2 linked regions of the Homo sapiens genome follow. The protein of the gene in region 1 purifies or fractionates together with the protein of each later gene. This does not show direct contact. Each region holds a gene or a part of one and is shown on either strand. Other genes may lie near its edges.

Region 1 (15,520 bases):
GGTGGAGCTTGCAGTGAGCCAAGATCGTGCCACTGCACTCAGCCTGGGCAACAGAGCAAGACTCTGTCTCAAAAAAAAATAATAATAAAATAAATAAATAACATAAAACCACCACCACTTTATTACAGCTCACAGATCCTGTAGGTTAGTAATTGGTGATCTCTCGCTCCTGTGGCTTCAACTGAGATTAACTCAGCTATACTTAGAGGATGGATGGGCCAGCTGGGACAGTCCAAGATGACTTTGTTCACATGTCTGGCACTTTGTGGGTTATAAGGTGGGGTCAGCTAGAATGGTGGACCACAGTACCTATACTCAGCCTCTCCAGCATGGTTGTCTCATAGGAGATAGACTTCTTACATGGCAGCTGGCTTCCTCTAGAGCAAGTATCCCAAAAGAACCATGGGGAAGCTGCATGACTTTTTATAACCTAGCCTCAGAAGTAACACAGAGTCATTTCCATACTCTCTTGCTTACAGTAGTCATAAGACCACCAGATTCAAGGAGAGGGAACAGAGATGCCACCTCTTGAAGAGAGGAGTGTTAAAGAATATGAAACCTTTATTTATTTTGTTGTTGTTTCATTTCGTTTTGTTTTTTTGAGACAGAGTTTTGCTCTTGTTACCCAGGCTGGAGTACAATGGTGCAAATTCAGCTCACTGTACCCTCTGCTTCCAGGTCCAAGCGATTCTCCTGCCTCAACTTCCCAAGTAGCTGGGATTACAGGTGTGCACCACCACACCCAGCTAATTTTGAATTTTTAGTAGAGATGCAGTTTCACCATGTTGGTCAGGCTGGTCTCAAACTCCTGACCTTAGGTGATCCACGCACCTCAGCCTCCCAAAGTGCTGGGATTACAGAGGTGAGTCACCACGCCCAGGTTGAAACTATTTTTTTTTTTTTTTTTGAGATGGAGTCTCGCTGTCGCCCAGGCTGGAGTGTGCAGTGGCACAGTCTCGCCTCACTGCAACCTCCGCCTCTCGGGTTCAAGCGATTCTCCTACCTCAGCCTCCCAAGTAGCTGGGATTTACAGGCATGCACCACCACACCCAGCTAATTTTGTATTTTCAGTAGAGATGGGGTGTCACTATGTTGGTCAGGCTGGTCTCAAACTCCTGACCTCAGGTGATCCACCTGCCTCGGCCTCCCGAAGCGCTGAGATTACAGGCATGAGCCACCGTGCCCAGCCTGAAACCATTTTAAAAAAATTAACTTTGTTAAAGTACAATTTATATACAATAAAATGTACCCATTTTAAATATATAGTTCAATGGGTTTTAACAAATCTATACACCCTTGTAACCACCACCACAATCAAGATACAGAGCATTTCCTTTATTCCGGCAAGTACTCTCCTGCCCCCTTGCAGTCAATCCCACACCCCAGCCCCTGAGCTCAGGGCCATCACTGATCTGCTTCCAGGCTTTTCTAGAATTTCATATGATACAGCATATAGTTTTCACACTTGGCTTCTTCACTTAGCTCAATTCTTTTGAGACCCATCCAGGTTGTTGCATGTATCAATAGTTATTCCCCCCACCCTTTTTTTTTTCATTCCTAAGTGCTGGCAACATTCCTTTTTTTATTAAGTAGTATTACAAGCAGCTATGAACATTCATTTTCATTTGTCTTGAATAAATATCTAAGAGTGGGTTTGCTGGGTCATACAGTATATGTGTTTAACCTTATAAGAGACTGCTAAACTGTTTTCCAAAATGGTTGCACAATTTTGTTTTTCCATCAGGAATATATGAAAGTTCCAGTTACTCCACATCCTTGCCAACACATGGTATTGTCAGTCTTTTAGGGTTAGCCATTCCAGTAGGTGTGTAGTAGTATCTCACTGTGGTTTCAATTTGCATTTGCCTGATAACTAATGATATTGAGCATCTTTTCATGTGCCAATTGGCCATGAATATATCTATTTTTTGGAGCATCTATTCAAATCTTTTGGCATTTGTAATTAGTTGGTTTTTTTCCTATTGAGCTTGAGGAATTATTTATAAATTCTAGATCCCAGTCTTCTGGCAGGTATATGTATTGCAAACGTTTTCTTCCAGACTGTGGCTTGCCTTTTCATCTTCTTAAAACTAAAGAACAGCCTGGGCATGGTGGCTCACACCTATGATCCCAGCACTTTGGGAGGCTAAGGCGGGAGAATCGCCTCAGGTTGGGTGTTTGAGACCAGCCTAGGCAACAAGACAAGACCCCCATCTCTACAAAAAATAAAATAAAAAACTAAAAAATCAGTTGAGCATGGTGGCACGTGCCTGTGGTCCCAGCTACTTGGTAGGCTGAGGCAGGAGGATCACTTAAGCTTGAGAGTTTGAGGCTACAACGAGCCATTTCCATACTGCTGCATTCCAGCCTGGTGACAGAGCAAGACCCTGACTCAAAAAACAAACAAACCAAAAAAAGAAAAAAGAAAAAAAAAAAACCAAACCCTCAAGAGCAGATATTTTAAATTTAAATTTGATGAAGTTCAAGTTCTTTTTTTCTTTTTTGAATCATGTTTTTTGTGTCCTATATAACACTTGGCTGATGCAAAGTCAAAAAGATTTTTTGTCTTATTCTAGAAATTTTATAGTTTTCACCTTTATGATTCATTTTGAGTTAATTTTTTGTATGGTTTTTGGTCTGAGTGAAGCTTCATTTTTTTTTTCCAAATAGATATCCAATAGTTACAGTCACATTTGTTCAAAAGATTATGCTTTGCTTATCGAGTTACTTTTACAATTTTGTCTGAAGCAATTGATCCTATATGTACAAGTATGTTTCTTGATTTTTTGTTATATTCTATTGGTCTATATGTTTGTCCTTTTGTGTTCATATTTTAAAACTATAGCAAGCAGGCAGCAATTCATTGTTGCTAAATACTCTTGTGATGTCACATGCTAAAGCCCTCAGGCACAATTCAAATCATATAGTCCAGGTTCCTGGGATAAGAAACCCTGGCTCCAGCTTACTGTCCTGGGCTCCTCTTATATCTGAGAAAACAAAGAGATCATAAGAGTAATTTCAAACATTAATTAGGCAGACGAAGTAAGAAGGAAAAAAAAGACATGTGGTATCTTTTTGCCAGAATTCTGGTTATTTAAGTTAAACTTGGTTTGGAGAGACAAAGAAAAAAAAGTGAACTGCAGGTATGTGCCTCTGGCTTAAAGTGAAAAAATATGACCCTTATAAACAGTGAGACACCATCCCATTTTATAATACAATATTGCAACGTGACAATGGACGTTGGGTTAAAACAATCTCCTTCTTAAAGGTAGCATATACTTTCTTCCTCTTAAGAGAATATTTTCTTGTAAATTTGTTTGAGTTCATTGTAGATTCTGGATATTAGCCCTTTGTCAGATGAGTAGGTTGTGAAAATTTTCTCCCATTTTGGAGGCTGCCTGTTCACTCTGATGGTAGTTTCTTTTGCTGTGCAGAAGCTCTTTAGTTTAATTAGATCCCATTTGTCAATTTTGTCTTTTGTTGCCGTTGCTTTTGGTGTTTTGGACATGAAGTCCTTGCCCATGCCTGTGTCCTGAATGGTAATGCCTAGGTTTTCTTCTAGGGTTTTTATGGTTTTAGGTCTAACGTTTAAGTCTTTAATCCATCTTGAATTGATTTTTGTATAAGGTGTAAGGAAGGGATCAAGTTTCAGCTTTCTACATACGGCTAGCCAGTTTTCCCAGCACCATTAAATAGGGAATCCTTTCCCCATTGCTTGTTTTTCTCAGGTTTGTCAAAGATCAGATAGTTGTAGATATGCGGCGTTATTTCTGAGGGCTCTGTTCTGTTCCATTGATCTATATCTCTGTTTTGGTACCAGTACCATGCTGTTTTGGTTACTGTAGCCTTGTAGTATAGTTTGAAGTCAGGTAGGGTGATGCCTCCAGCTTTGTTCTTTTGGCTTAGGATTGACTTGGCGATGCGGGCTCTTTTTTGGTTCCATATGAACTTTAAAGTAGTTTTTTCCAATTCTGTGAAGAAAGTCATTGGTAGCTTGATGGGGATGGCATTGAATCTGTAAATTACCTTGGGCAGTATGGCCATTTTCACGATATTGATTCTTCCTACCCATGAGCATGGAATGTTCTCCCATTTGTTTGTATCCTCTTTTATTTCGTTGAGCAGTGGTTTGTAGTTCTCCTTGAAGAGGTCCTTCACATCCCTTGTAAGTTGGATTCCTAGGTATTTTATTCTCTTTGAAGCAATTGTGAATGGGAGTTCACTCACGATTTGGCTCTCTGTTTGTCTGTTGTTGGTGTATAAGAATGCTTGTGATTTTTGTACATTGATTTTGTATCCTGAGACTTTGCTGAAGTTGCTTATCAGCTTAAGGAGATTTTGGGCTGAGACAATGGGGTTTTCTAGATATACAATCATGTCGTCTGCAAACAGGGACAATTTGACTTCCTCTTTTCCTAATTGAATACCCTTTATTTCCTTCTCCTGCCTAATTGCCCTGGCCAGAACTTCCAACAAATTTACAAGAAAAAAACAAACAACCCCATCAAAAAGCGGGCAAAGGACATCAACACACACTTCTCAAAAGAAGACATTTATGCAGCCAAAAAACACATGAAAAAATGCTCATCATCACTGGCCATCAGAGAAATGCAAATCAAAACCACTATGAGATACCATCTCACACCAGTTAGAATGGCCATCATTAAAAAGTCAGGAAACAACAGGTGCTGGAGAGGATGTGGAGAAATAGGAACACTTTTACACTGTTGGTGGGACTGTAAACTAGTTCAACCATTGTGGAAGTCAGTGTGGCGATTCCTCAGGGATCTAGAACTAGAAATACCATTTGACCCAGCCATTCCATTACTGGGTATATACCCAAATGACTATAAATCATGCTGCTATAAAGACACATGCACACGTATGTTTATTGCGGCATTATTCACAATAGCAAAGACTTGGAACCAACCCAAATGTCCGACAATGATAGACTGGATTAAGAAAATGTGGCACATATACACCATGGAATACTATGCAGCCATAAAAAATGATGAGTTCATGTCCTTTGTAGGGACATGGATGAAATTGGAAATCATCATTCTCAGTAAACTATCGCAAGAACAAAAAACCAAACACCGCATATTCTCACTCACAGGTGGGAACTGAACAATGAGATCACATGGACACAGGAAGGGGAATATCACACTCTGGGGACTGTGGTGGGGTGGGGGGAGGGGGGAGGGATAGCATCGGGAGACATACCTAATGCTAGATGACGAGTTAGTGGGTGCAGCGCACCAGCATGGCACATGTATACATATGTATCTAACCTGCACCATGTGCACATGTACCCTAAAACTGAAAGTATAATAAAAAAAAAAGAGAATATTTTAGTTCATGATTATTTATTTTTGCAAAACATCTATTTAATTGTTTCAAGTTTGTGAGGAACAAAGTTATTGGACAGGAAGTTGTAGCAAAAATTTTCTATTTCTCAAAAGTAACTGCTGTAGGTAAAATGTCTGATTTACCAAAAGTTTGAACTGGTTCGCAAAGGCAGTAAGTTCATTCCTAGTTCGGGTCTTTACAAATTATTGTGAGATTTAATAATAATAAGACCCTGCAGTTGTTTCTGTTTAGCAATTGCTCATCTCAAACAGGTTCTTTGTGGTTTTTCCAAAAACAGACAGCATATTTGGCTTCTTCTACTATAGATACTTTCCTACGTCTATTTCTACATCATTCAACATGGCAAGGCTAACAGAAAATCAAGGTCAAATGAGGAAACTCAGCAAATGGTTTTTATCTGGCTTCACACTGACCACCAACTGGTAAACACTATAAGAAAAACTGTGCAGGATATAAATGATAGGTAAAAGTACATTTTTTCACTATGGGCCCAGGCTCTCATAATAGAAGCAGGCCTAAGATTTAAAACAAATGATGTGGGAATCAATTCAAAGTGCTGAAGAATCACAAATTGCTTTTCTATTTAACTAAAAAATCTCCATGCTTTAAAAATTTTCCGCTGGTAGCTTTTTCTCCTGAATTTGCACTCTTAATAATTTTATCCTATAATCCCATCTGATGATGTTATTTTAGGGAAAACCAGGTTAACAGAAGAACATTTATCAGATGTGTAGATCATAGCAAATTCCTGGCACTTAATAAACACAATACTGATAGACTAAAGGGAGGTTAAAATGAGGTGGAACACGTAAGTTATCTCTAACAATGATTAATTTTTGTATATTTTACTGATGAGAAAAACTCCTTTAACCAAAAGCTGCTTAATATTTTTATTAACTGCTTCAGTTCCCTTCAAGTTCTTAATACGTTATTAATATAACACAGCATGAATAAAAAATATGATAATCCATTTTTTAAAAAACAAATTCAAGAATGCCAAACAGGTGACTTACGAAGGGAGCAGGGAAGCCTAAAGGGGCCTCATTTCTGTCTTCCTGGGACAAAAGGATAAGTAATTGACTGAAATGTAACTACCAGGACATAGACGCTCCTAGGATGTAAAAGAAAGTTGTCTGCCTCCCCCTCCCCCTCTCCCTCTCCCCACGGTCTCCCTCTCCCTCTCTATCCACAGTCTCCCTCTGATACCCAGCGGAAGCTGGACTGTACTGCTGCCATCTCGGCTCACTGCAACCTCCCTGCCTGATTCTCCCGCCTCAGCCTGCCGAGTGCCTGCGGTTGCAGGCGCGCACCGCCACACCTGACTGGTTTTCGTATTTTTTTTGGTGGAGACGGGGTTTCACGTGTTGGCTGGGCTGATCTCCAGCTCCTAACCGCGAGTGATCTGCCAGCCTCGGCCTCCCGAGGTGCCGGGATTGCAGACGGAGTCTCGTTCACTCAGTGCTCAATGTTGCCCAGGCTGGAGTGCAGTGGCATGATCACGGCTAGCTATAACCTCCACCTCCCAGCCGCCTCCCTTGGCCTCCCAAAGTGCCAAGATTGCAGCCTCTGCCCGGCCGCCACCCCGTCTGGGAAGTGAGGAGTGTTTCTGCCTGGCCGCCCATCGTCTGGGATGTGAGGAGCCCCTCTGCCCGCCTGCCCAGTCTGGGAAGTCAGGAGCACCTCTGCCCGGCCGCGACCCCGTCTGGGAGGTGAGGAGCGTCTCTACCCGGCCGCCCCGTCTGAGAAGTGAGGAGCCCCTCCGCCCAGCAGCCGCCCCGTCTGAGAAGTGAGGAGCCCCTGCGCCCGGCAGCCACCCTGTCTGGGAAGTGAGGAGCGCCTCCGCCCGGCCGCCTCCCCGTCCGGGAGGTCGGGGGCGCCTCTGCCCGGCCGCCCCTTCTGGGAAGCGAGGAGCCCCTCTGCCCGGCCGCCACCCCGTCTGGGAGGCGTACCCAACAGCTCATTGAGAACAGGCCATGATGACAATGGCGGTTTTGTGGAATAGAAAAGGGGGAAATGTGGGGAAAAGATAGAGAAATCAGATTGTTGCCGTGTCTTGAGTAGAAAAAAGTAGACATAGGAGACTCCATTTTGTTCTGTACTAGGAAAGATTCTTCTGCCTTGGGATGCTGTTGATCTATGACCTTGCCCCCAACCCGGTGCTCTCTGAAACATGTGCTGTGTCCACTCAGGGTTAAATGGATTAAGGGCGGTGCAAGATGGGCTTTGTTAAACAGATGCTTGAAGGCAGCATGCTCCTTAAGAGTCATCACCACTCCCTAATCTCAAGTACCCAGGGACACAAACACTGCGGAAGGCCACAGGGTCCTCTGCCTAGGAAAACCAGAGACCTTTGTTCACTTGTTTATCTGCTGACCTTCCCTCCACTATTGTCCTATGACCCTGCCAAATCCCCCTCTGCGAGAAACACCCAAGAATGATCAATAAAAAAAAAAAAAAAAAAGAAGAAAAGAAAAGGGCCCCAAAGTGACGTCAGCCCCATCTCAAATTCAAACCCCATAGTAAACGAACAAGATAGACCTTAACTACTGACTAATTCTCCAAAGCAAAAAGTCAGGAAAATAAAAAAATCTCGTTAAGCTGTAAAAAATAAAAATAAAAATAAAAATACATATCCAGGTACATACTCTTTCTTTCTTTGAGACAGAGGCTCGCTCTGTCACCCGTGCAGTGGCAGTCTCGGCTCACTGAGATCTCAGCCTTCCAGGCTCAAGCAATTCTTCGGCCTCCACCTCCGAAGTAGCTGGGACTACAGGCACTCACCACTATGCCTGGCTAATTTTTCGTAGAGATGGGGTTTCGCCATGTTGCCTACGCTGGTCTCAAACTCCTTACCGCAAGCAATCTGTCCACCTCGGCCTCCCAAACTGCTGAGATTACAGGCGTGAGGGATTGTAGGCGTGAGGGATTACAAGCATGAGCCACCGCGCCCTGCTATATTACTTATTTCTTAAACACCTGCAATTCATTAAAATACACCATGTATAAATTATAAATCATAATATTATCAAGAACTGTTATTTCTAAGTGCTGAATAAATGAATATTTCCACTCATTAAAAAAAAAAAAAGTTGTCCGTTCAAAGCCAGTGTCAAGTACCAAAAAAAGAAAATTATCTTGCGGCAGATAATGAGAAATAATGCAGGAGAGGAAAGAGGAACTTTAAAGGCTGTACGTGTAGGATTTTCTTTTTCTCTCTCGGAGGAAAGAACAGCAAAAAGCGAAGAGTGGGAAATGCTGGACTTAAATTCCTTTCTTTAGGTTTACGAACAAAAAAGGAAAGCGAGAAGAAAAACAGAATCAAGGACTTATACAGCAGGAAGTTGCCCTGTAAGCATTTAGTCCAGGGACCTGCCATTCTTATTAAGAGCTAAAACCAAAGAATTAGTGCACGAAAGTAGAAAGAAGACAAGCCGCCATTGTGGAAGGAGCGCAGCGGGACAGAGGCGCGCAGAAGCCTCACCAGACAACCAGGCCCCGTCCCCGTCCCCCGAACTGTGCGGAAAGCGCCACCGAGTCCAGGCGTCTCATTTTACAGCGGAAGACACAAACTCTGAGATCCAAATGACCTGCTCACGGTCACAGCACGAAGCCCGTGGGCCCTGTGTCTACAGTCACCAACTTCCAGGCTTGCGACTAAAGGGAGCCAACGAGCGCGTGAGCGTTTGAGACCAGCTGGCTGAGGGACGCCGAAAATCCCGCGCGGAGGAAGGCGGGAGAGCGCTACCGCTGCTACCAAGGCGGCGGCGCGGGCGCTCGGCCGGGACCCTTCCCTGCGTCGCCACCAGATGGCGCGCTCGGCCCGCCGTTCGCGGCTAAGCTAGGGCGGGTGGGGAGGGAGTAGGGAGGAGGACGTCGGTTGCCTTGGAAATGCAGGGCGCAGCAGCCGCTGCAGTGGAGCCGGTAGGCCTGGCCGGCGGGCTGAAAGGAAGTGCGAGCTGTCCGCCCAGGGCCGGGTATCCGCCCCTGCAGGCTGTGGAGGGGATGTCAGGAGACTGGCTGGCCTCTTTTCTTGGCCCCCGACTCCTTCCAGTCTGACACTGAAGACTTTATAAGCTTCCCCCCGACCACCCTCCACGGGCTCCACTCTCCACGGGCCTGGGCTTGCGCCGCTTCGAGATCAGCCTGGGGGTCGCGCCCTCCTGGTCTTGTCCACGAAGCGCCGTTCTTGGGCCGTTAGGAGCTGCTGGGAAGGGCTCTGATAGGCCCACTCCTCTTCTCCACCCAGGAGATGAGAAGGAGGGCAGGCCTTTTTAATCTGATCAGAATGTTAACCCATCTCTCCGCCTTGCGGTAGAACCCCTGGATACATTATTTGCCCTCTCGAAAGGCAGGCTCTGAATTTGATTCAGGTTTGTAACCTTCACGGTGCCCTCACACAGCCCCTAGCACACAGCAGACGCAGAGCAGACTAAGAATGCCTTCCATTCTTATGAGGCTTTATCACTTGACAGTTTTCCCAAAGCGTTTGGAGCCTCATAGCCCGGACAGCAACTAGGACAGATGGAGGAGGAAACAGGTCAGAGGTTCAGAGACTTGGCCTAGGTTATACAACTCTGTGCAGGAGCTGGGACTAAGCTCGGTCTTGCTTCTCTTAGTGCCTCTCTCACCAAATTCTGAGTCTAGTGAATGCTTTCTGAGGACCTCACATACTCTTGCATCCTTCTCAATACCAGCGCAATGCTCTTCCGCTGTAGGTACTTCATATGTGCTAAGTGTGTTATTGATGTCTTTTACCCTCATATCCCAATTCATAGATTGGTTTCAACTTCTTGCTCTGGATACTACAACATTCTTCTAAAGAAAACACTTGGTTTCTTTTATGAATTTGTCACATTTGTACAGTGCCATGTTGTTGCCTCACTCCCTTCCTTATCCCATAATTTTCTGCTGGGCAAGAGAGAGAGTTGAGGAAGTGATTAAGAGATGGGAAAAAGTGCCCTATCTAAGCCAAAAAAAAAAAAAAAAAAAGGAAAAGAAAGATTCCTGTGATGACAGAGGGGAAAAATAATGACTGGGTATTTATCAGTCTATGTGATAATTGCTCATGGATTGCCTTACAGCCACCTCCAGAAGATCCTCTTTAGACTCACTACTGCTATTTGAAGGTAGAAAGAAGCCTTTTTGTTCTCTACCATTATTATTGCATATTTTTCCCTTATCCTCATAATAATATTTTCATAGTTATTTTTCTTTTCTTTGTTGATAATTCTAAAACTGAAGGACAGTAAGAGTGGGAAAAAAATGTAGTTCTGGTTACTAGAGAAGTTAGTGTAATATACTGCAGTTCAAACTATTTGATATTAGCAACTCTGGATCAGAAGACGGACTAATTTTAAAGCTAAGACTCCAATATCTTTGGGTACTGCAGTAGAAAAATGTGCCATGACTAAAGGATTGGTGAAGAAAATACATGCTAATGTAATGTACATCATCAGTCGTCCAAGTGAAACTTGAAAATGTCACTCATCTAGATATTTTTAAATACCTTGATTTTAATATATGATTTTAACATATTTCCAAACCGGGCAAATTTTACATTTTAACACTAACAATTTTGGTCCCTATCATATATACATAATCAATATGAAAAGCGGTCTCAATTTTTAAAATTAATGTTTTAGGTGGTACTATTACCACTGAATGGCTTTAAATTAATTCAGGATTTTTAAAAACATTTACTGGAGACCATTTCTAATTAAGTTAAACATGTGTTCTGTGCAATCTCATTTGCAGTAGCCACAAAACGAATAAACTACCTGGGAACCCCCTGCCCAGTGCCATACCCCCAGTGCCTGTCCCCAGATCGAGGCTTGGGCCCCTTCAGCCATGTCTATCACAAGCACCACCAGCATGTCTGACAAACTGCCCTACAAAGTCACTGACATTGGCCTGGACTTCTGGGGATGCAAAGCCCTGGATATTGTGGAGAACCAGATGCCGGGCCTGACGTGCATGTGGGAGCTGTACTCAACCCTCCAAGCCCTCGAAGGGCACGCGCATCACCAGTTGCCTCCATAGGACCCATGGAGATGGCCATCCTCATTGAGACCCTCATTACCCTGGGTGCCAAGCTGCAGTGGTCCAGCTGCAACATCACCCAGGACCATGAGGCAGCTGCCATTGCCAAGGCTGGCATTCCAGTTGTACGCCTGGAAGGGCGAAACAGAGGAGGAGTACCTGTGGTGCACCAAGCAGACATTATACTTCAAAGACGGCCTCCTCAACGTGATTCTGGATGTCGCTTGGGCCCCCACCAACCTCATCCACACCAAGTACCCACAGCTCTTGTCGGGGATGTGAGGCATCTTCAAGGAGACCATGATTGGGGTCCACAAGCTACACAAGATGATGGCCAATGGGATCCTGAAAGTGCCTGCCATCAATGTCAACAACTCCGTCACCAAGAGCAAGTTTGACAACCTCTCCGGCTGCCAGGAGTCCCTCATAGATAGCATCAAGTGGGCCACAGACGTGATGATTGCCAGCAAGGTAGCAGTGGTAGCAGGCTGTGGCGACATGGGCAAAGGCTGTGCCCAGGCCCTGTGGGGTTTCAGGCCCATGTCATCATCATCAAGATCGACCCCATCAACATACTGCAGGCTGCCATGAAGGGCTATGAGGTGGCCACCATAGACGAGGCCTGTCAGGAGGACAACATCTTTGTCACCACCACAGGCTGTGTTAACATCATCCTTGGCTGGCACTTTAAGCAGATGAAGGATGATGCCATCATTTGTAACACTGGACACTTTGACATGGAGATTGATGTCAAGTGGCTCAACAAGAATACTGTGGAGAGAGTCAACATCAAGCCCCAGGTGGACTGGTATCAGCTGAAGAATGCACACCACATCATCCTGCTAGCTGAGGGTCAGCTGGTCAACCTGGGTTGTGCCATGGGCCACCTCAGCTTCTTGATAAGTAACTCCTTCACCAACCAAGTGATGGCGCAGACTGAGCTGCAGACCCACCCAGACAAGTACCAGGTTATGGTTCTCTTCCTGCCCAAGAAGCTGAATGAGGCAATGGCTGAAGCCCACCTGGGCAAGCTGAATGTGAAATTGACCAAGCTGACTGAGCTGCAAGCCCATTACCTGTACTTGTCCCGTGATGGCCCCTTCAAGCCAGATCACTACCACTACTGAAAGCCAGACCTGCCCTTCGCCTTCCAACTGCTGTCCTTGTCCAGGCCCTGCCTCTCCTCCCTAAGAGCAAATGGCACCCACTTTGTGATTGGTTTGTCAGTGTCCCCTATTGACTCCCTGGGGCTGGTCACTCAGTTTTTGGCCTCTGCTGCATCCCTCATACTGTTCCAAGTGTGGCAGGGGGAATTGAGAGGCCCCTCCTCAAGCCTTGGTCATGATAGGGGTACAAGGGAGACAGCCACAGGGAACTATGAATTCAATGATCTTGGAACTTCTCACTAAGTCAGTCCTTCCTTAGCCTGGAAGTTGGTAATGGAGTCACAAAGCCCATATACTTTACCATCTAGGCATTCACCCGGTCTGTGGACTTATACCTGTGTGCTTGGTTCACAGGTTCAGTGGTACCTCAGCCCATGACAGAAAAGCAGCAGCTATATTGAAGGGCAAAGAGGAACTGTTGTTTGAATTTTCCTGAGAGCCTGACTTAGTGCTGGGCCTTCTCTTCCACCTCATAACAATGAGGTTGGTACTTTTAGTCTCTGTTTTATAGGAGTTAGAATAGACTGTTAAGGGACAACTGAGAAAGGACAGAGAATTGATAGCCAGAGGTTGAGAGGGGCCATAAAAACATAAAAGCAAGCATAGATCTGCTACCACTTTGTAACAAGATAATTCCTATCACAACCCTGGGTCAAAAAGAGAATAATCTGGTCCATAATGTTTATGTTAAAAAAAAATAAAAAGCAGGAAGGTGGGTAAATAAAAATCTTGGTGCCTTAAAAAAAAAAAAAAAAAAAAAACCCCTAGGAATACAGCTTACCAAGAAGGTAAATGAGTTCTACAATGAGAATTTCAAAACACTGCTGAAATAAGTCAGAGATGAACACAAACAAATGGAAAAACATTCAATGTCATTTTTCATGGAATTAAACAAAACTATTCTAAAATTCATATGGAACCAAAACAGAGCCCTAATCACCAAATCAACCCCAAACAATAAGAGCAAAGCCAGGGGAATCACACTACCCAACTTCAAACTATATTACAAGGCTACAGTAACCCAAACAACATGGTACTGTTACAAAAACAGACATATAAACTAATGGAACAGGTTAAAGGACCCAGAAATAAAGCCACACACCTACAACTACTGGTTTTGTGACAGAGTCAATGATAACAAACAATGGGGAAAGAACTCCCTATTCAATAAATGGTGCTGGGATAACTGGCTAGCCATATGTGGAAGATTGAAACTGGACCCCTTCCTTTTACCACATACAAAAATTAACTCAAGATGAATTAAATACTTAAATGTAAGACCTAAAACAACAAACACTCTAGAAGAAAACCTAGGAAATACCATTCTGGACATTGGCCTTGGCAAAGAATTTATGACTAAATTCCCAAAAGCAACTGCAACAACAACAAAAAATAGACAAGTGGGACTAATTAAAGAGCTTCTGCACAGCAAAAGAAACTATCAACAGAGTAAACAGACAACCTGCAGAATGGGAGAAAATATTCACAAGCCATGCATCCAACAAAGGTCTAATATCCAGAATCTATAAGGAACTTAATTCAGCAAACAAAAAGCAAATAACCCCATTTAAAAATAAGAGAAGGACAGGCTGGGTGTGGTGGCTCCCGCCTGTAATCCCAGCACTTTGGGAGGCTGAGGCAGTCAGATCACAAGGTCAGGAGATCGAGATAGTCCTGGCTAACACGGTGAAACCCCGACTCTACTAAAAATACAAAACAAATAAATAAATAAATTAGCCAGGCATGGTGGCACGTGCCTGTAGTCCCAGCTACTCGGGAGGCTGAGGCAGGAGAATCACTTGAACCCTGGAGGCAAAGGTTGCAGTGAGCCGAGATTGTGCCACTGCACTCCAGCCTGGGCAACAGAGTGAGACTCCGTCTCAAAAAAAAAAAAAAAAAAAAAGAAGGCAAAGAACATGAACAGATACTTTTCAAAAGAAAACATACATGTGGCCAACAAATATATGAAAAAATGCTCATCATCACTAATCATTAGATAAATGCAGATCAAAACCATGATAAGATACTATCACACAGGAATCACAATGGTAATTATTAAAAAGACAAAAAACAACAGATGCTGGTGAGGTTTAGCAGAAAAGGGAACACTTATACACTGCTGGTGGGAGTATTAAAGAACACGTGGAAAGCAGTGTGAAGATTTCTCAAAGAACTTAAAACAGAAATACCATTCAACCCAGCAATCTCGCTACTGGATATATACCCTAAGGAAAATAAATCATTCTGTGAAACAGACACATGGACTCATGTTCATCGCAGCACTGTTCACAGTAGCAAACACATAAAATCAACCAAGATGCTAATCAGTGGTGGACTAGATAAAGAAAATGTGGTACACATACACCATGGAATGCTACACAGCCATAAAAAGAACAAAATCGTGTCCTTTGTAGCAACATGGATGCAGCTGGAGGCCATTATCCTAAGCAAACTAATGCAAGAACCCAAAAGCAATACTGCATGTTCTCACTATAAGTGCAAGCTAAACATTGAATAAACATGAACACAAAGATGGGAAAAATAGACACTGTCTATTACAAGCCATAAATTGTGGGGAAAAAAAAAAGTACAAATTGTGGGGCCACAAGGCGAGGTTATTTATCACTAGTTAGGACAATAAGAAGAGGCTTCTCAAGATGAATTTAAATATTAAAGGATACAACATCTCTTTTTGAATTCCCAAGATGAGGGTTTATAGAAGTAGTTAGGTGTCACTGGCATTAAAGGAATTGTATTTTGTTGAAGATGAGTACCATGAATGGTTTTGAATATGTATTTCAGCTTTGCAATTAACATTATAGTGAGGTATGTGCCTTCTAAGTTAGATTGCTCTTTAATAAGGCTTTTGGAAGTACTGCATTACTACTACTACTATTACTTTTATTAGCCTTACAGTTTATAGCTGAGAATCCAGTATAATTTGG
Region 2 (15,707 bases), on another chromosome or scaffold:
TCATCCTTTTTCCATTCTGCACAGTCATATCCCACATCCAGTCCAACACTTGTTACTGTTGATCACCCCTGTACCTTTCCCATCCATTCATTTTTATCCATCTTTACTATCACAACTTTAGTACAAGTGGAGTCATCACTCACCAATAGTAACCTGCTCAGTATCCTCTTTAAATCCATTATGGCTCCCCTCCATTTTGTTCTCCAAGCTAGAACCAGAATAGTCTTTTTTTTTTTTTTTTTTTTTTTTTTTAAGACAGAGTCTTGTTCTGTTACCCAGGCTGGAGTGCAGTGGCATGATCTCAGCTCACTGCAGCCTCTGCCTCCTGGGTTCAAGTGATTCTCCTGTCTCAGCCTCCCAAGTAGCTGGGATTACAGGCACCCACCACCATGCCCAACTAATTTTTGTATTTTTTGTAGAGATGGGGTTTTGCCATGTTGGCCAGGCTGGTCTTGAACTCCTGACTTTGGGTGAGGTGATCCCCCTGCCTCAGCCTCCCAAAGTGCTGGGATTACAGGTGTGGGCCGTGGTGCTCGGTCCAGAATAGTCTTTTAAACATGCAAATCTTTTCATGTCAACCCTGCTGAAAATCCTTTTCATTGGTTTACTGTTGCTGTTGGGAAAATATCTTAAATCCTCAACAGGTCACAAAAGTCGAGTCAATCAATAAGCCCTAACAGATCCTCTCTACATAAACTCTTCTACTTAGCATAACCCTTTTTCAGAGACACCAGCGTCTGTTAGTTGCACATCTATTTGTTTCTTTTGGCTTCTATCTCTGCACAGAATTAGGGAAGTTCATGGAGATGCCAAAAGATTGGCACTAATTCTCTAACCTTTCTCACTCCATGCAAAGAGATTTGGTGGAAGTTTTATTATTGTTTTTATTTCCTGTGGAAAAAATGTATTATTTGCCTCTATTCACATTCTATAAATTTAGAATATCTTACAAAAGGTATAAAAACCTAAACCATTTTATTATGATATCTCAAAACCAAATTATATAGGGATAAAACAACTCCAGCATTAATGTCAGAAGGAGCTCAGGGGCCCTTTATATATCATGGTATTTTAAAACAAATATTTAAACCTATCAAGATTGTTAGATTATATTTTTCTAGTGTATGGTAGAAGTGGTTTTAGAATCATATTGGGCAACACTTTTTCACCTCTCTAACCCTTATTTGCCTTGTAAGGATTACAGAGGTAAAATGGGATAATAAAGTTACCTACATTCCAAAGTTATTTTAAGGACTAACTAAGATGAAGTATGTAAAGTACCTGGCACAAGTGTGGCACATAGTAATGATCAATAGGTGCTAATTATTACTATTTTTGTTTATGATAGTCACAAGTCATTGTTTTAAAAGTTCTTTTAGGTTCATGTAACATTTTTTTCTTCAGAGAAAAGAAATACTGAACAAGTCTATCACTGGTTTTGTTCTATCAAATATGGGTAAATACACTTTTTCAACTGAAAACAGTAAACATTAATCCTATTACTCTGCAGAGAAGAAAATAATCTTACTGCTCTTCAGAAAGATTTTACTATTACTCCTTATTGCACATAAGCCCTGTCTACCTGGTGCTATTGTGAACTAATAATCAATATCCTTTTTTGCCATGTCACTTCCAGCCCCTAGATGAAGAAGCTTGTCCCGTTGGGAGTCCTCAGGCACTAAGTCCACTGCACCACTTCTGTCTGTGCGATGATTTCTGCCAGTGGTGGAGACTCTGCTGTCCCCTGGTGGCATTTGCCGTCTTTCATTTATTCAATGTTCTGGCTCAGAAGACCTACAGTTATCCTTAGATACTCGTAAATTTAGCAGGCAAAACCTGAGAGTTGCTATCTCATTCTGATCTGTAATTATGACTCTTGTAGTGGAAGCATCACTTTCTCTATGTGGTTCAGAGCAGAAATTCTTGGTTAGGAAACTCTCCCACATGTTACTGTCTCATCAACACCAGTGCTTCCTAGGCAGAATTCATTTCGTCTCCTCTTTAAGGAGTTACATGCTAAACTGTTCTTTGGAGTTCTATCTTTGGTTTCAGAGTCTGATTCTACAGACAGGATCCTGAAATTTCCTCTTCTAACTCTGCTATCCTTCCTAATTTCTTATCTTTGACAAAGAGGTTGGATGTTACTTCAAATTTGTCCAGGATCCTAGTAAGGACCTCAGTGATCTACAACCTATGCCCATGTAAAGGAATAAAGTTAGATCTGTATGAAATACAACTTTATTTTTCTATAACTCCGCTGAAATTCAATTCTGAATTGCCTATTTTAAAGGGCTGGTAATATCATAATCCGTGTCTATTTCTGGTATTCCTCCTTTCTCTCCCTTGGGGTTGGATCTAAATTCAAAAAAGCCTAATATAACAGCAAATTTGGGGGTTTGGAGCCTCTGGTTCTCAATGTGATCTGCCTACACAGGCATCCAGTGAGAAATTCACGATCCTAACTCAGTTATCAGTTCTACAAATCTCTAATGAGTTCAGAGTTCCCTTCTGCAGGCTCCCTTTAAATGTGGAGGCTGCCTTTCTTTTCCACGTCATACATGGGTGTACAGGGATATTGTTTTGTTTCCACTTCAAGTTAGGGCATACAAAATCTCTGTGACCCTGTCTAGTTCCCATCTACCTAATCACACCATGAATCTTGTTCTCTTTCTGGGGCCTGTTGCCTTCCTGGGACAGTTCAGGAATCAAGGAACACGTCCCTCTGCTCCTGGATTTCACAAACCCATCTATGGAGGTTTGGTGGCTTCCCAGGTATGTGACGGGGACCATGGTAAGACTCCCTGTCTCTGGGACTGTGGAAATCTGCCTTGCCATTGCCTCCTCTCTCACTTTCCCCTGTGCACCATCCACAATCTTGTCATCTCCCAACACAGAAAGTGGGTTTTTTGTTTGATTTTTTTTCTGAGAATGGAAAGCCATGATCTTATAAAAGATGTTTTGTCCAAATCTTTTGCTATAGCCAAGAGTCTTATCTGTTTCTGTAAAGCCAAGCCTTTTGCAACACCAAAGACAGGAAGAGATTCCCTTTGTTCCCTCTGCTTTCTTTGCTGTCACTTCTTTCTTTAAAAGCAAAGAGCACAGAATGCCTAGCTGCTTGTTTGGGGTGATGGGCAATGAGATTGAGAAAAGAGAATATTGGGGAGGAAGGCAATCTATTAATATTATTCTACCACATTTATGAGCAACAGGCAGAAATTATAACAACAAGGCTATCAGGAAAACTCCCCACTCCATCTGGATGAAACTGTGTTAACCCTAAGAAACGGGGCATGCTTTTGCCTCTTCTGCTCTTTTCCTTGCTAAGCACAGACAAGATGTCAGAACTCAGAAGTCCTGTTCCATGTAATCAGACTGACAGTAGAACAAGTGTTTTCTAGGAAAAGGTTTATCTTTTCACTGGAGATCCAGTTCTGAGTGGTTTTGAAAGGTACAATTCTTTTATTTGGTTTGGTTCTAGGAATATGACAGTTTATATAAAGCTGTTGCTTTACTGTGAAAAACCTAGACATAGTGAGAGTAACATCTGAATTAATCTTTTACACCCAGAAACCAGTAGAGCAGAAAGAGTCACTTTTTTTTCCTTGTAAGAATGCAAAGGAATCCTCAAAACTCCTTTGCAGTTTTAATATCCATTTTGAAATATGTTGATGTAACTATTATAATGAAGTATTAGCTACTTATGGTTAGTAATTGCTTACCCTTATTGAGTACTTACTGTGTGTCAGATACTAAAACACTTTTATTTAATATTTTTCATTTAATCTTCATAATAACCTTAGGAGATACATATTATTATTCTGATTTATAGGTGAGGAAAGTGAGGCACAAAGAGGCTAAGTAACTCGTCCAAAGGCACAAAATATGATGTGTTACAGACTGAATGTGAACCCCAGAATTCTGATGGCAGAGAAGATATGCCTACCTAAGTATATTCATCATGATAATAATGGTTGAGAGGCTATGGCATATGGGTGTCAATTCTTGTAATAAAATGTTAAATTTAAGCTAGTAGATCAGAATAAAAATGTTAATGTGAACTTATTGTGATATATGTGAGACAAAGTTACCAGTTTGCAGCCAAGACATGAAACTGGATTAGTGAATGATTTTGATGCTCTAGTTTATCAAGGGATACAGAAGTTTTGTTCTGAGCCGTCCTGGGTCTTCAGGGAACCACCATGAATAAATACCGTGAATAAACACCAGGAATTGGAGAACATAAGAAATTAACATTTTATATTTATGTTAATGTGCTGGAATTTGGAAGGATCAGCATGAAAATCTGATACACAGAATCATTTTGAATTACACTTAAAGGCATGGAAATAAAATTTCTTGTTAACATTGTTTCATAAAATTCTCAAAGCCATTAGTATTTTGTATAATTCATTCATTCAAAAATATTTACTGAGCACCTACTATGTGTCAGGCACTGTTAGAAGTGCTGGGGATAGAGTAATGAAAAAAACAAAGGTTCTTGTCCTTGTGGAGCTAAATTTTGTTTTTTTAAACTCCTCTTACTATCTATCATTCCCAAGGAGCTGATTTTTAATGAGTATGTGAAATAAGTAAGTAAACAGTATATTACAAAGTTATAAGTGCTATGGAAAGGTAAATTAGGGGTATCTTTGAGTTTGCTCCTCTTAGTGTTCTTTTTCCTTTCTATTTCAGGGATAAAATGGGCTAGGTTATAAAACTGTTACTCATTTTGAAAACTCAATCTGAAGGAGCTGGACAAAAATACAAACCAAAGCATGACTTCTGATTTCAACATTGAAACCAGTTGATATGGTTAGGTCCCAACCCAAATCTCATCTTGAACTGTAATCCCCATAATCCCCATGTGTCTAGGGAGAGACTCCAGGTGTCTAGGGAGATCGGATCATGGAGGTGGTTTCCCCCATGCTGTTCTTGTGATAGTGAGTGAGTTCTCATGCGATCTGATGGTTTTATAAGAGGTTGTTCCCCTTCGCTCCTCACTCTTCTATCTCGTGCCACCACGTGGGAAGGTCCAAGTGTGCTTCCCCTTCACCTTCTGCCATGATTGTAAGTTTCCTGAGGCCTCCTTAGTCATGTGGAACTGTGAGTCAATTAAACCTCTTTCCTTTATGAATTACACAGTCTCGGGTATTCCTTTATAGCAGTGTGAAAAATGGACTAATACACAAGTGGTCCACACCCACCTGAAGTAGCAGCACTATCTAAAAAACTGGCTTCTCATGGAGAAATAACATTCTCGTTGCCCATTTTCACTTTATAAGTATATATAGTTCCCCTCCTTTGAAGATGCTCTTTACCTGTTCCCTCCTTACCTGTCTTCCTTGCCACATATGCTCCTGTGACTGATCTTACTCATATTTCTGACCTTAGAAAAGGCTACTGTGTTCAGTGCCCCTGCTGTGTGCTGAATGTGATTGTCTTTTTCCTATTAAAACACTAATTATATTGCATTGTAGAGGTTTATTCAATAGTCTTTCTCCCCCATAAGACTGTATAATTTGTGTAGTTAAGGATAAGGGGCCAGGCGTGGTGGCTCATGCCTGCAATGCTTTTGGAGGCCAAGGTGGGCAGATTGCTTGAACCCAGGAGTTCAAGACCAGCCTGGGCAACATGGCGAAACCCCATCTCTACTAAAATGTTAAATTTAAGCTAGTAGATCAGAATAAAAATGTTAATGTGAACTTATTGTGATATATATGAGACAAAATATAAGTTATCAGTTTGCAGCCCAGACATGAGACTGGATTAATGAATGATTTTGATGCTCTTGTTTATCAAGAGACACAGGAGTTTTGTTCTGAGCCGTCCTGGATCTTCAGGGAACCACCATGAATAAATACCATGAATAAACACCAGGAATTGGAGAACATAAGAAATTAACATTTTGTATTAACTTTAATGTGCTGGAATTTGAAAGGATCAGCAAGGAAATCTGATAGGAAATCATTTTGAATTACACTTAAAAATTAAAAAAAAAAATTACCTGGGCATGGCGGCATGTGCCTGTAGTCCCAGCTACTCAAGAGGCTGAGGTGGGAAGATCACTTGGGTCCAGGAGGTTGAGGCTACTGTGAGCTGTGATTGCACCACTGCACTCCAGCCTGGGTGATAGCACAAGACCCTGTCTCAAAAAAAAAAAAAAAAAAAAAAAAAGGATAAGGAATATGTTTTTTCATCATTGTATCATCAGCACTCAGAATGGAGGCTGGCATACAGTAAGAGCTAAATATTTGTCATATAATTGAATCAACTTTTGCTGAGTATCTATGTGGACATGCCTATGTATGTATGCATTTTGTTAATAAGGCAAATTTGTGATTACACAGAAAAATTCAATCAATATAATATCCTTACTGATTTGTCCTAAAATTTCACCGACACCTATTATTTATTTTTTCACAAAAGGTATGTTGGTATTTTAATTAAAAACGACTCTATAAATTGGTTTTATTATTTATTTATTTATTGTTTAGAAAATATTTTTTGTAGAGATGAGGTTTCACCATGTTGTCTGGGCTGGTCTTGAACTCCTGGGCTCAAGCCTTCCACCCACCTTGGCCTCCCAAAGTGCTGGGATTACAGGCGTGAGCCATCACACCCGGCCAACAAATTGGTTTTATTATGAGTAGCTAGTAATACATGTAATTTCTCTTTTACTTTTTAAAATATTATGAAAAAATTTAAATGTGCAAAATAAAGAAGAGTAGTATAATAAACTCCCATGCACCAATCATCTGCCTGGCCCTTATGTTTCATCCACAACCCAACCCACTTACCTGACTCCAGGTTATTTTAAAACAACTTCAGGCACTATAGCATCTAATTTTCAGTAATTTAAAAAAGAGTGTATAAGAATGCTTTAGAGATTACAAGGCAAATGCTTACACATTATCTTTTTCCATTCTCATACCCTGTTCTTTGGCACTTTACCGAAAAGGAAATGAGAAGGGTTCAGAGAAATTAAATGACTTTTCTTTGGTAACATGCCTAGTATACATGTAGTCAGAACTTGAAGCTTTTGCTTTTTTTTTTTTCTTTTTTAACATCAACTTTCGTGCTTAGTCCAGTGTATAACATCACAGGCAAATTCAAATTGAGAATAGGAATCAGTTGTTCTTTAACCGTAACCCTTCTAACTTTTACTTATCCTAAGACCGGGTAGCAAGTAGGGCAGGAGCCTTCATCTAGAGGGATGGTGACAGCTCTGATAGGGGAAAATTAGCACTGGTCTTTCCTTCCAAAAAGCCACTCTGGCTGCTGCTGTTGACACAAGGCTCCTGGCTTTTGAGACATTATTTGAGTGCTGGATTCCAATACTTTTTACTTTCTCATAAGAAAAAAAAATGTGAAGCATCTAAGGATATCTCCTGCCTTATTGATAAAGTAAGCCTCAGGCTGAATCCAAATTGCTGAGCTCCAATAGAACTACAGGGCAAAGCATCTACACAGGGAATTGCCACTCTTCTCCAAAATTAGGCTTTATTAAGAGGCAAGGCTATGTTCTCCTCATATATATGTGTGTGTGTGTGTGTGTGTGTGTGTGTGTGTGTGTGTGTAAAAAGTAAATGTTTTACACAGATCCCCATAAGGGAAAAGTGGGCTATAGTAATACAGTATTTTTTTGTTTTTCTTTTTTTTGGGGGGGGGGGGGACAGTTTCGCTCTGTCACCCAGTCTGGAGTACAGTGGCGCGATCTCGGTTCACTGCAACCGCCGCCTCCCGGGTTCAAGCGATTCTCCTGCCTCAGCCTCCCGAGTAGCTGGGACTACAGGCAAGCACCACCACGCCCGGGTGATTTTTTTTTTTTTTATTTTTAGTAGAGACGGGTTTCATCATGTTGGTCAGGCTGGTCTCGAACTCCTGACCTCAAATGATCCGCCCGCCTCGGCCTCCCAATGTGCTGGGACTACAGGCGTGAGCCACCGCGCCCCGCCAAATACAGTTTTATCAGGAATCAAAACTGTGCTCTCTTCTGGACTCTCAGCTTTAGCTGTTTGGAGCGTTTAGTCTAAGCCTTACCACTTACATTGTAATGTGAAGATCAAATTGTAACGACATGGCAATAATAAGGCTCCTATTGGTTGGGTACCACCAGTTTATGCCAGGCATTGTACTGATTCATGTCTTTAATCCTCAAAACGACCTTCCGAGGTCAGCGTTTTTATTCTTTTTCCAGAGGAGCAAACTGAGTTTCTGAGAAGTCACACCCAACTTGGTGGCAGAGCTGACGCTGGCATGGGGTTGACTCCAAAGCTCTCTACGCCACGAGGGTGGGAAAGACAACGAAACACAAGCGAGAAGAATAATGAGAACTGGGATCGCAACTTCATTAAATGAGAAGCCAGGAACAGGTGGCGGAGGGCACGCGGTTCGCTGCACGGAGTCGCTCAGGCTCTTTGAAACACCGCGCGGGGGAGCGGGGCGGTGCCGGAAGTCAGGCCATGGCTTCCGGTTCTTGCGTCGGAAGTGGCCGGTCAGCGTCGCTGCCGGTCTCCGGCGGAGACGGACTCTGGAGTTTGGGCGGCCCGGGCGGCCACTAGGTACTCTGATATTCCGTACTAAACACGTCTGCAAGTCAAGATGTCGCACCCGTCCCCCCAAGCCAAGCCCTCCAACCCCAGTAACCCTCGAGTCTTCTTTGACGTGGACATCGGAGGGGAGCGAGGTGAGCGGAGTCTGACGCTCGCGGAAAAGCCCCGAGGAGGCGGGGGTTCCCGGGATTTGGGGGATTCCAAGGGCGGAATGCGGCTCCGGCCGGTGACTGCTCAGTTTCGCGGAGGGGATGGCTGCCTAGGCTGGTCCGCCGGAGCAGGCCCGGAGATCTAGGGCTAGATCGATCCAGCGCCCTTGTATCAATGCCATCGGTGGTGCGGAAGTTTCTGGAAATTTCTAGTTCGGGAATTGTGGCGTCCTTTAGGTTTGCCTCCTGATTTGGTGGCACTTCCACGCCACCTTTGCACTACCAAGTTAGCATGAAATATTTTATGTTTGCAATGGGACAGTTCGGAAAGCATATCCTGGGATATGCGTCTGCTGGGCCCCAGGAAACTATATTTGCCACATGAGATAATATATCAGCACGTGCTGTGTTATTTATACGTTAAAGGGACTTGTTTGCTCATTGCTTTTGCCTTATTACTGATTCTTAATTTAGAGGTCCGTTCAGATGAGCAAACATTTTCTCTTAATTTGCCATTGGGAAAATGCGCTCAACGTAGTGATGGTGTTGCCTAGGTTACATAGCCGCTCAGAAGTTCCTAAGGCCTGGTGAATTAGGGAGCGTGTTGCTTTGTAACTGGATTGGCCTTGTTCTGGAACACGTTGGAATTGCTGGCCAGGCAATGTGTTTGAATGCATGTACAGGACACACACACGTTTACACGTACATTCAGTTTGTTGCAACTAGCTAGGGCTAGGTTTAATCTCACCTGTCTTAGCTGCTATCTAGAGGAGGAATTTTTACAGCTTTTGCTTCAGAGGTTGCATGAGGCAGTTTGCTCAGAGCACAAAGGCTGCAGGTATACGTAACACGTGGCAAGTCCGCCCACCCAAAGACTGTTTAATTTTCTCCCGTTGGTTGCTTGGTGATTGGAAATTCTCAGTACCTCTTGAAGAAATTACTCAGGATTTAAAACTATTTGTATTTAATGATATCTCTTACATGGTGCTAATCTTTTGGCTACTATAATTGGTTATGATCCTTAGTGTAATGTTTCAAATCTGTTTATATACATACATGACAGTAGGTAGACTAAATTTGAATATTAGAATAAAATAAGATTCACTAATTCTAGTGAGTATATTCAAAGGAAATGAAGTTTGTATGTCAAAGAGGTATCTGCACTCCCATGTTCATTGCAGCATTATTCATGATAGCCAAGATAATGGAATCAAACTAGGTTTCCATCTACAGATGGATTTTTTTTAAAATTTGATATATGTGCACAGTGGAGTACTATTCACCCATAAAAAATAATGAAATCTTGTCACTTCTGACAACATGAATTAATATGGAGGACATTATGTTACATGAAATAAGCTGGGCACAGGAAGACAAGGCATGATCTCACTTACATGTGGTTTCTAAAAAGTTGACCTTGAAGTAGAGAATGGAATGGTGGATTTCAGGGGTTGGGTAGATGTTGATCACGAGAGACCTAATTTCAGTTAGAAAGGGGGAATAAATTTAAGAGATCTATTGTATAACATAATGACTATAGTTAGTAGCAATGTGTTGTGTTCTTGAAATTGCAAAAAAGAAAAATTACAGTAAAGGGGAACTTGGTAATTCATGATTGATCTGCTACCATAATTATACCAACCTTCTTTTTATCATTTGTCTATTTGGTTGTTTTGCATACTGACAAGATTTTCTTTTCTTTTAGTTGGTCGAATTGTCTTAGAATTGTTTGCAGATATCGTACCCAAAACTGCGGAAAATTTTCGTGCACTGTGTACAGGAGAAAAAGGCATTGGACACACGACTGGGAAACCTCTCCATTTCAAAGGATGCCCTTTTCATCGAAGTATGTGTAAATTTTCTTAATCTTGTTATTCTTCATACAGACAAGTCCTGTTCTTTAGGATTTGGGGAAGAAAACACTAAGTAGGAAGTGAAGCTTAAAAAGTACTATTAGCGTCCATGTCTGAGGCAGTAACGCAGTTTCGTAAAGGTTAGGCTGTGCGAGGTGGAATTACTTATGGTACTAAGGTTTATCTATAGAGAAATGGACTCCCCTAGCTTTACCCATCCTCTCATTCTCCTTCACTCTAAGATGATTTGATTGAGAAAGGAAGGCCGTAGTCAACCAACCTTAGGTAGCTTCATTGCCTGGTGACAAAAAAGTTATGCATAGACCGGGCGCAGTGGCTCACGCCTGTAATCCCAGCACTTTGGGAGGCTGAGGCGGGTGAATCACGAGATCAGGAGATCGAGACCATCTTGGCTAACGCGGTGAAACCCCGTCTCTACTAAAAATACAAAAAATAAGCCGGGTGTGATGGTGGGCGCCTGTAGTCCCAGCTACTCGGGAGGCTGAGGCAGTAGAATGGCATGAACTCAGAAGGTGGAGCTTGCAGTGAGCCGAGATCACGCCACTGCACTCCATCCTGGGCGACAGAGTGAGACTCTGCCTCAAACAAACAAACAAACAAACAAACAAACAAAAAAATGCATAATTTTTGGGCCTGAGTGCTTGGGAAGGCAGCAGATTTGAAGATTCAGTGTTTTGGGCACATGGGTGATAGTGTGGTCAAAATATGCCATTTCATACTGCTTATTACACTTTGTAATGAATCATACTTTTGTTTAGTGATAATGGTTCTCCCAATAGACTGCAGGCTCTATGAGTTCAAGAACTGTATGTTTTCACCATTTTGTTTTTGGCATCTAATACAGTTATTGAGTAAGAACTCAGTAAGTATTTGTTTAATAAATAGGCAAATAAGCAATAATCACAAGAGCAACATTTTTTAAACGATTTATTAAGAAAAAATTAACTTTTTAAAAAATATTTAAAATGTTTACTTTCATGTTTAATAAAAACTTGAAATATGCTAATAAACTATATGCAGAAAATATTTAACATAGCAAGTGTGAGACTGCTATCTTTAGAAAGGTCTGCCTGCAAGAGTAGCACTTGTTTGGAGTCTGGGAACTTGACACTTGTACCATTTCCTAAATAGTAATGGTGATTTACTATGCCTAGCCTATTTGTACAAACATGAATGTGTGCTCTCTTTTGGGGAGTCTGGAATTTTGGTACATGCTAGGTAGAGTGTGCCCAATAAATACCTTGGGTGCTGAGTCTCTAATTGGCTCTCCTGGGCAGAAATACTGTGTACATGTTGCTGCATTTTTGTTGCTGGGGGAAGTGTGTGTTCTGTAGCACTTCATGGGACGGAGAAAGCATAAGGAAGCCTGCACATGGATTTTTCCAGACTCTGCCTGTGTCTTTCCCGTCATCTCGCTGTGTATCCTTACCACTGTGATCCAACCACATACTGATTTGTGTGAGCTCTAGGGTTCTCTGAACATGAAAGCAATCTTGGTAACCTTTGACACAAAGTGATATATTTGCTGAAAATTTTCCATTAGGGTAGAACAAATCTACTGGGAATCATTGGTCTGTATTCAGCAGACATTATTGAGTAACTAATATGTACTATGTGTACATGCACATAGTTATAAGGATGTAAAACAATACAGTTGGTGTACTTAAGGAGATCATTGCTGGAAGGGGCAGATCATAATGCCATATGTTATGTAGGCAGAGTCAAGATACTATGGGAGAAAAATTAGGACATACAGCTTAGGGATTTCAGTGACAGTTTTATAGGGGAGGTATCATTTGAACCGATTTTCTGAATGTTAGCAGGGATCAGGCAGTGAAAATAGGTTGGATTCAGATGGTGAAAAGCCTGAAGCGTTTGGAGTTGCGGAGACGGGTGGGGAGCGACAAACAGGAGAGAGACATGACTAGAGTCATGCACTACAAAGTTGTCTTACGTACGTATCCATTAGTAAGCATTGCTAAAGGCATCCATGTCTCAGTCACTAATAGCCATTTTCCTTTTTTGTAGTTATTAAGAAATTTATGATTCAGGGTGGAGACTTCTCAAATCAGAATGGGACAGGTGGAGAAAGTATTTATGGTGAAAAATTTGAAGATGAAAATTTCCATTACAAGGTAAAGTAGAGAAAATGCATGTTATTGCTGATAAAAAGATTGTTATATATCTGGAATACTTGTTGGATTAAGACACCAAAAAATGTTTCAAGTGTGCTTAGATTCTCCATTTCTTGTAATAGGAATCACTTTTGTAAATAATGGTTCTTTAATATGGAAAAGTTTTCATTCAGTAATGATTAATTCAGCATTATTTCATTGTGATCCAGTTTTTATATGCTTCAGTTAAGCCAGTGAGTTTTTAAATGCGACCAGCATCTGGCAAAATTGTTTCCAGGAAAAATGTTTCCATTGTTGGAAGGATGGTAACTTGTGCATCCTTATCCTTGAATTTGAAGAGCAACAAAACCATCACTAATATCCAGGATGTCAGGGGATTTGCACACTAGCAGATATAGTTAAATGTCCAAGCTCCTAAAGGACTTCAGTGGTGCCTGTGCCTTCTTGTCTTCGTTGTCCCAAGATGTAATTGGGGTATATTGCATCATTCAAGTTATAAGAATGGACATGTAAGTACAAAAGTAAAGTGATATTTTTGGAAATAAGGAATATGAGCAAGGGTATTAGGATAATTTGAAAAAATGTCGTCAGTCTTCCAGTCAGTGTTTATTGAGCCACTATCACTGGCACCAAAGGGTTTATAAAAATGAAAGGCCTTGATGACAAGGAATTTATAATCCTACCTCAGAGACAAGATTAAGATACATGGGACTACTGGAGAATAATAGTATATAAATAAATGCTAAATTGATTGAATATCCTTGCTTGTATAACATTGCTAATACTGTCTATATACTGCAGGAGAAAGATGTGATTTATGCAGTCTGAATTATTATGGAAGTCATTGAGGAGGAATGGCTACTTGGGCTGTGCAGACTGGGTCTTGCAAGGCGGCAACATGTCTGAGATTTGGTTAGGCAGGAACTGTAGTATTGATGCAGAATTTAAAAAGGGACGTCGGTGAGGAAAGACAAAGGCAAGAGACGTTGAGGAAATAAAGTTCTAGTTACTGTTGTACCAAAGGAAGCTACCAGAAGGATGAAAACTAAAGGTGATGTGATGATCACATTGACATAGAGAAAAGGGGCCTATAGACAAGACACATGATTCTTGCTTTCTATAAACGTGGTGGCCTTAAAATCTGAATTTGATTTAGACTGAGGGGAGTAAAAGGCATTTTGGTGGGGTGGGGGGTGTCATGAAACATTATATAACATGAGAGTTACGGTGCATGCACCAACAAGGAATACATTTAGAAAGCCTAGGAGATAAAGTGAAAAGGTTAAGAAATTGGGTTTCATAGATCCTTTGACAGGATTATGCCAAGGTAGAATTTTGATTTCAAGATGTATGCAGCAGTTTCTTTTGAGCACTCTCCGAAGAGGTGATTCATCTGGGATGAAAACCTAATCCAAATCCTGTATGATTTGGATTCTTTTGAGATTAGGAAAGTACCAAACTGAATGTCTTGGGTAAATTCAGTATCCCATTATTGTTCCAGTTTATTGATGTTTTGTAAAGGAAGACTTATACTGTAGGCATATTTATGAATTTGGAAGACCGTTCAGGTCTTCCCAGAAAAAAAGAGCATTCATCATAAAGAGGGCAAAATATATTACAAGAGTTTCATAATGCTGCATCTTCATTTTAAAGGTGAAGTGTAAGTATTTTCTCATGGCCAATTTAGAAATAACCCTCCCCCCGACTATTGTTTCTGTTACCTATTTACTTTGATAAGGTTTTTTAAAGTTTAAAGTGATTAAGTGCCCCATGTTTTGTGAATTAAAGGTTGCAGTTTATAAAAAAATAAAAAGTAATTAAAAAATTTTATAAGTGAAAAGTAAAAAAAAGTAGTTTGATCTAAATGGTAGTATAGTGCACCCCAGTTTTATGTTCAGTAAAAGAACAGTTCAGACTAACACACAATTCAGAAAAGAACACATCTAACCTTGGTTTTCTTTTAATTTTTATTTCTACAGCATGATCGGGAGGGTTTACTGAGCATGGCAAATGCAGGCCGCAACACAAACGGTTCTCAGTTTTTTATCACAACAGTTCCAACTCCTCATTTGGATGGGAAACATGTGGTGTTTGGCCAAGTAATTAAAGGAATAGGAGTGGCAAGGATATTGGAAAATGTGGAAGTGAAAGGTGAAAAACCTGCTAAAGTAAGTAAAAAGTTACAGTGAAATACACTTATTATCTTAGTTGCTATCTTTTTGAGACGGAGTCTCGATCTGTTCCAGGCTGGAGTGCAGTGGTGCGGTCTCGGCTCACTGCAGCCTCTGTCTCCCAGGTTCAAGCTATTCTCCTGCCTCAGCCTTCTGAGTAGCAGGGATTACAGGCGCGCGCTACAACACCCGGCTAATTTTTTCTGTATTTTTAATAGAGACGGGGTTTCACCATGTTGGCCAGGCTGGTCTCAAACTCCTGACCTTGTGATCCGCCCACCTCGGCCTCCCAAAGTGCTGGGATTACAGGCATGAGCCACCGCACCCAGCCTGTTAGTTGCTATCTTAAAGAAATATAAGTAAAAGGATCAGGTGATTATTAGCTGGAAAAATGTTATAATAATTTTGGGTATAGGAGCCAGGATCTGCCACTTTTTTTTTTTTTTTTTAACTTTTCTACAATGGGAAAGACAATTAGGGTAGTTTTAAAGGAGATTTTTATTATTTCAACTTTCATTTGGTGATCTTTGCTAGTTTACGTTAAGTCTTCCTATACCTGCAAAACTGTTCAGTTGGTATGTATAGTAGTACATAGTGGAATGAGGATAATAAGCCCAAAATCTTGTCTGGATTGTAGCATTAACTAGAGGCTTGGCCTTGACTTTGTTACTTAACTTTTCCACACGTGTTTTCTCCTGTCTAAATTACTTATGGGTTTAGACTAGATTATCTCTGAAGACCCTTGTGTACTTAATGTCTGTGAATCAAAATGACCTTAATATTGGCTGGGCATGGTAGCTCATGCTTGTAATCCCAGCACTTTGGG

What was found.
Region 2: the proteins of CCDC83 (region 1) and PPID purify together in Homo sapiens (affinity purification with mass spectrometry; 2 studies listed by BioGRID and IntAct, with this or other methods). This does not show direct contact.

What each region holds. Positions count from the first base shown.
Region 1 is NC_000011.10:85,845,845-85,861,364, forward strand, and holds the start of CCDC83 (coiled-coil domain-containing protein 83), read left to right. Parts: upstream 1-9,538; 5' UTR 9,539-9,740; intron 9,741-9,820; exon of another isoform or gene 9,821-9,907; intron 9,908-10,437; exon of another isoform or gene 10,438-10,496; intron 10,497-15,520.
Region 2 is NC_000004.12:158,716,183-158,731,889, reverse strand, and holds the start of PPID (peptidyl-prolyl cis-trans isomerase D), read left to right. Parts: upstream 1-8,493; 5' UTR 8,494-8,601; coding exon 8,602-8,686; intron 8,687-10,406; coding exon 10,407-10,547; intron 10,548-12,603; coding exon 12,604-12,710; intron 12,711-14,689; coding exon 14,690-14,878; intron 14,879-15,707. UniProt on the Homo sapiens protein: PPIase that catalyzes the cis-trans isomerization of proline imidic peptide bonds in oligopeptides and may therefore assist protein folding. Proposed to act as a co-chaperone in HSP90 complexes such as in unligated steroid receptors heterocomplexes.